2 separate regions of the Homo sapiens genome follow, and region 2 is linked to region 1. The links come from fine-mapping of genetic effects on gene expression. A gene starts in region 1. The other region holds a variant in brackets. All regions are shown on one strand. Distances are between the middles of the regions.

The links.
Region 2: its variant is fine-mapped to the expression of SLC16A7 in testis (GTEx, PIP 0.95).

Annotation. Positions count from the first base shown.
Region 1 is chr12:59,594,396-59,597,317 of GRCh38, reverse strand. SLC16A7 (solute carrier family 16 member 7) reads right to left here and starts at 1,289. Exons shown (of 6, transcript NM_001270623.2): 1 at 1,082-1,289. RefSeq lists enhancers at 481-630, 681-820 and a silencer at 1,291-1,360.
Region 2 is chr12:59,687,702-59,690,623 of GRCh38, reverse strand. All of the region lies in intron 2 of SLC16A7 (solute carrier family 16 member 7), which reads right to left. Among named protein-coding and RNA genes, the nearest start is that of SLC16A7, 93 kb to the right of the region's middle. The variant T/A (reference allele first, on the strand shown) is at 1,309.

The sequences.
Region 1 (2,922 bases):
AAAAACAATTGTAGAGAAACCACTCCTCGTTTCCTCTTCTATGTCTCGTGTGTGTGTGTGTGTGTGTGTGTGTGTGTGTGTGTGTGTGTGTGTGTAAAATTTTAATTTCCCTGGAATTGGAACTACAGAAGTCCCTCCTCAGCCCTACCGGGAAAGTGGCACTGGGCACGACCGCCCTTTCCAAGGCAGTCTGCAATCCTTTTCGCGGAAGTAGAGGAGAAAAGGGGGTGGAGAAGGGCGCCGCGATGCAGCATCCGCTGAGAAAACAGGCAGTTCGCACGTGAGCGGGCTCGCAGCCTGTGGCGCCACCTGACCGGGCCTGGCGCCCCCAATGTGGTGCAGTGGCCCAGCAAGACCAGAAGGCTCAGGCCCTCCTGAACCCTTGCCAAGTCAGAGGTCCCTTTCTGCCTGGGCTCAGGCCTCGCCCGCATATAGTTTTCCATCTGCTTCCACCCCTGCCATCCTTCCTGGGGACCAAAAATGAAGAAAGACAACCCCCCCATCCCCCGGTATTTCGTCTTCCCCTCACAGCCTCTTCCTGTCCTGATCATCTGCTCAAAGAGAAGACGTTCTCTCCACACACTCCACCCCCGCCTCCACCTTCTGCGGCAATGAAGCCACGCCACCCTAGGGGGCTCGGGGGCCGGATGCTGGCGGGGCGCGCACTAGAGACACGCCGCACTGGAAGCAGCCCTCGGAGTCCCGTGAGCCAGGGAGACTGGGGTGCACCGCGCCACGCTGAGTCTCGGTGTAAAAGCCGAGAGCGTGAGCACCTCCTGGCCGAAAGCACGCGAGGCGCTCCTTGCCCAGGACCCCGCGCGCCCCCTCAGTTCCCGGGCAGCTGTCGGCGCGCACTGGCTGACGCGAGCTCTGCTCCCGCGGCCGCTTCGGGATTTTTTTGTCTATATAAGGGCTCGCTGGCCAACTCTGCGTTGGCACGTTTGTCACAGGCTGGCCATTATTTGCACACACGCGTGCGGCTCCGCGGGCAGCTCGGGTCGCAGACGCAGGCTCGCCCTCCTCTTAGCCGGCACCTCCTCCTCCTCCTCCTCCTCTCCCCTCCCTCCCCAGCTGTACTTACTTTATCTGGTCTCTGGCGCAGGGTGGGCGCTGCAGCCCTCCGTTCCCAGCAAACCGCAGCCGATTCGCCTCGCTGTCAACGGGTGAATGGAATTATTTATTTATTTATGGCCCCTGACGTGTCCTCGCCCGCCACAGCCAGCGGAGAAGGAGGCGGTGGCGGGAAGGGGAGGCGCGGCTGCTGAACGCCCTTGTGGGTGCGGAGGAGCGCGCGCCAGGGGTGGGGGCCGGACAGGCTGCGGTGGAGGCCGGCCCGGGGGGTGGTGGGGGGGAGCCGCCTCCCGGTGCCTGGAGACCGACTGAGCATGCTCCAAGCGGCTGTCAAAGCTATAGGCACTTTCTCTATCGCTCGGGGCACTCCACTTCGGATTTTAGTTTTGACCAAGGAAGAAAGCCAAAAGGCAGGTAGATCTGTCTTTCCAGATGGGTCGTAACTTGCTGTATCCGAAGTACTCTGTAGCCTGACCTAGAAGACAGATGTGCGGTAGCTCTGTGCAACCCAAGCATGGGAGAGGAAAGCATGCAAAAAAAGAAGAGTCTGGCCGAATGCAGGGAGAATAGGAGATCCTCATTGTGAGCTTGCAGGGAAAGTGTTGAGCCATTTTTCAACTGAGGCCTTTTTGGGAGAAAGAGGTAGGGCACTGTTGGAGATTAGACTCACCAACCAAATCACTTCACGGAAAAAAATATAATTGACACCATAGGAGGAAGGACATAGAAAACAGCACCAAAAAACATTAAAAATAAGAAGGATTTTTTTTCAAATCATTTATAATTCCTTTCATTTTTAATTTCTCAAATTACTTAGTTCTTCAAACCAGCATTTAGTTATTTGACAACGAATAGTGCTAGAGATAATGGTAATTCTGCTGTCATTGGTTTGGTCTCTTCCCCTGTCTAAAATGTGCTTCTTGGTAAAACTGGAAAGAGGAAGGGCTGGAAGAGAACATTTAAGTAACCCCATAGATTGGGTTTCTTTAATATCTTTAAGTTAAATTGCCACTTTAGAGAAAAAGAAACTATCCAAAAGAATAATTGTAGGTTTTGGCTTGACAAGTCCTATTGCAGTTTGTCTACCAGTTTAGCTAGCTTTCTCCTCCTTGATTTCACAATCATTTTAAGGTGTGTTCTATGATTCTTCACATTTTACGAATTTATAAAAAGAGTTAAGTCATTTGGGTAAATTCACATTGTCTTTGCCACAGCTAGTCTGTTGTAATGGACGAAATTTGAATTTCAATTTCTGTAGCTATGAAATAAAAGTAATATCAATCGTGTTGATTTCATAAGATTTAAGTGAAATAATATACATGAAGTGGCTGGTAGGCATAATACAAGATGAAAAAATAATCGTGATTAATAACATCAAAATTACTGGAAGATAATTTTATTGAAAGAATGATATTTGAAAATGAAAAAAAGGCAGAAAATTACAGAAAGGATTTTATATTTTTAAGCTAAAAATGCTTAAATAGACATTTGTATAAGACATAATAGGCCTTTGATAATGATGAAATGTCTAGCAGTGACTATAAACACTTCATTTAATTAAAAAAAGTTAAACATTTAAAAGAAACAACATAAAGGCACATTTCAAGGTCATAGTCTTGAGTGTTTGCTATTGATATTTTTCCTGCTCATTCATCACTTTTATTTCCTGTCAAAGAAGAGGAAGAAGAAAGACCATATGCTTTCTGAATTTTGATCCTATTCTCCCTTTTCCTTCTCTTTGATTTTTCTTTTTTGTTGTTTTTTTCTTATAGTCCCATGTTCTTGACCTGTTTAACCTATTGCTGAATGCCAAACATCACTACTTATAGCATGATATCGTAACCTTCTTTT
Region 2 (2,922 bases), 93 kb before region 1:
AGAGAAGGCATGGACTTAATCTGTGTAACAAACCTTATCATTGTTTATATGCTTTTTCTAGGCATCTCCACATAACTGGCCCTTCCTACACTCTTCTTTCTTTTTATCAGTGGACAATGGTATTAAAGCCTGAATTCAAATCCACCTCCTTGAGATTTACTCATTTTTCTGGGTATCTCACAAGTATAATGATGTACATACTTTAATAAACTTCTTTTTGTTTTTCTCTTGTTAATCTGCACTTAGTTACTGGGGTCACAGCTAAGAACTCAGAAAATATAGAAAGAAAATTATTTTTTTCTTCCCTTACATAGGAAGCCTGAACAGTGCTGAACAGTGCTCCCCTCCTGAAAAGGAGAGTCAGCCCAAACTTTTAAATATGATTTTCATGTCCTTTAGGGAAAAATTTATCTGAGAGTTTTACATGTTACCATGTGTGCAGTCTTTTCTTCTCTCCCAGAGTCATGGCTTAGGGAAATTACGTATATGGCTCTACAGTAAAAGAGGATGATAACAATCATTGTGTGTATATCCCGTTTTGTTTTTGTTTTTCTCCTTCTAAAGCTTTTAAAGCCACAGAATCCTTTCTAGGAATGAAATCTTACTCAGAATCCTGCTATGCAAACCAGCTACTCTGGTTTATGGGGTTGGAAGCATCATAGAGAGCCTGGAATTCCACTTATCAGCATCCCCTGACTCCTGAAATTGTCCCTGGTTCTTCCTAGAAAGTTTAGAATTCCTTAGAGCATAGCTGGGAAGCCACTTAATAATACTTTTCTCACCTTTCAACTTAGGAAAAAAACAGAATTATATTTAAGAGATTTTGGATCCTCCATTTTGCATTAGTTTCCAAAGATTCTCTGGTGTTTTGGTTCTTTTCTCAATTTGAAAGCATTAGATCATTAACTGGCACTACGGAAGAGGAGTTAAAGAAAAATTCCTGGATACTTCTAGGAAGATTACATGGCCAAAGAATACCTTTCTGACTTTTATATTAAAATGCCCATTTTAAAAAATCAAATAAAAAAAACCCCACAGGATCTCCTGATATCAATGATGAGATTCAGAAAGATGTTAGAATCCCTTAAGTTTCTAAAAAATACAGTATCACTGAGGCAGGATTAAGAACAGTACCACAGCAAGGTGAACCAACCTGGCGACAGGTGTTTAGAAACATGGTCTTCCATTTCACCAAGACATAAGTTTCCCTGATCTATGGACTCCTCTCCCCACCTGAGGCAGAAGTTTCCTTGTGAACCATTGCTCTTTTTAGAATCCTGAACATACTTAGTTCCATCTATCTCTTTG[T/A]CACTCAACACTTTGTCAGCTAGTCTCAGGATTCTATGACCCCTTCCCCTAGCTCACTTGAGTAATCATAATATGGGAAAACTAATCTAAATGCCAACTCTGAGAAGCGGTTGCATATATTACTGTCATTCACTTGATAAACTATTATATATACATTAAATAATGATTAGGAAAGCTCCATAATACAAAGGGAAGTATTTATTATATAATTTTTAGTTTAAAAATAGTGATATAAACCTGTATGATAGCATAATTCCAAATATGTGATAAAAGACACATGTCAAAAAAACATAAACATAGGCTATAGAATTAGGATAAGGATTGCAGAAAAAATTATAATTCCTTAATTATATTAAGTTGATATAATACCACTATAATGGCATAATATATACAGTACTTAAATTAATATTACACATTTACTTATTTGCCCTAATTTTGATTTTTATGTCTGCTTTGAAAAATAGGTTGCTTTTAACTAGTCCACAACTGATTCAAATATAGTTTTTGTAAGGAAACACAATGAAACTGGAAGCTGTATTTTATTTACAGATCTTACCTACGTTGTTTTAAGTTTCTCCTTTTTTGTTTTATATTGATTTGTCTTTAGTCATACCTAAATGAAATTATGAGACTCCTGCATAATTGTAAAGAGGATACTCACAGACAGTCACCACATAAAAATTTAGATATAAATAACATTTGCTGATTACCAATTGCATATATATAAAACATTGCTGCCACCTGTTATGGTACAGGTAAGTATCAATAAGCAAGACACTTAACAATTTAATATGCATTTTCACATAATACTATCTTTTAGCTATTGTCTTCATTTGGCAGGCAATGAAAATAAAGTTCAAAGATGTCAAATATCTTGTTCAAAGTCTTAAAGTCTACCGCAGTATTCGTCTCACTCTAGAACTATGTTTTTAATGAATTAAAAGCCATACACTTCCTACCAACTTACTATCTTTCATTCATGAACTCCTTAAAGTGGTCATATTGCCACTCCTTCTCCACCCTCTTGTATTTTGCTTGTTCTAATAATGGCTTTCCTCGTGGTCACTTGCCTGGGTTTTCTGCCTCCACCATTCCAGCTATGTGCTTCCCCAATGACTTCAGGAGACACTCAATTAGTTGGTAATTATCAAAAGAAGAGGAGGAAATGAAAGCTGGAACCCACAGAATGTTAACTATCCACTGGAGTCAGAAAATAATACCAATAATCAGGATTATGAAAGAGCCATGTTGAAGGGAAGGAATGTAGAATTCATAGGAACTTAATAAAGTTACCAGGTCTTTCTTCTACCATACACTTACGAGTGAATTGAATTGGTAGATTTTATTTTTGTTAATACTTATTTGTCCCCTACTCATACTTGTCATATTTCTCTGTAGGCAAAGTATAGCCCCCATCCATTGACTTTAGGTTTGGACATGTGACTGCCTTTTGCCAATGGAATGTAAGTCAATGCAGTGTAGGCCATGTCCAAGAGTATGTTTAAAATGTGTTTGCATGTTTTGCCTTTATAGCAGTCCTTGCTTTCCAAAATAAGAACATGTCCCTTTAGCCTGGATCCCAGAAAATAAGAAAATGTTTGACGGTTAGCTGAG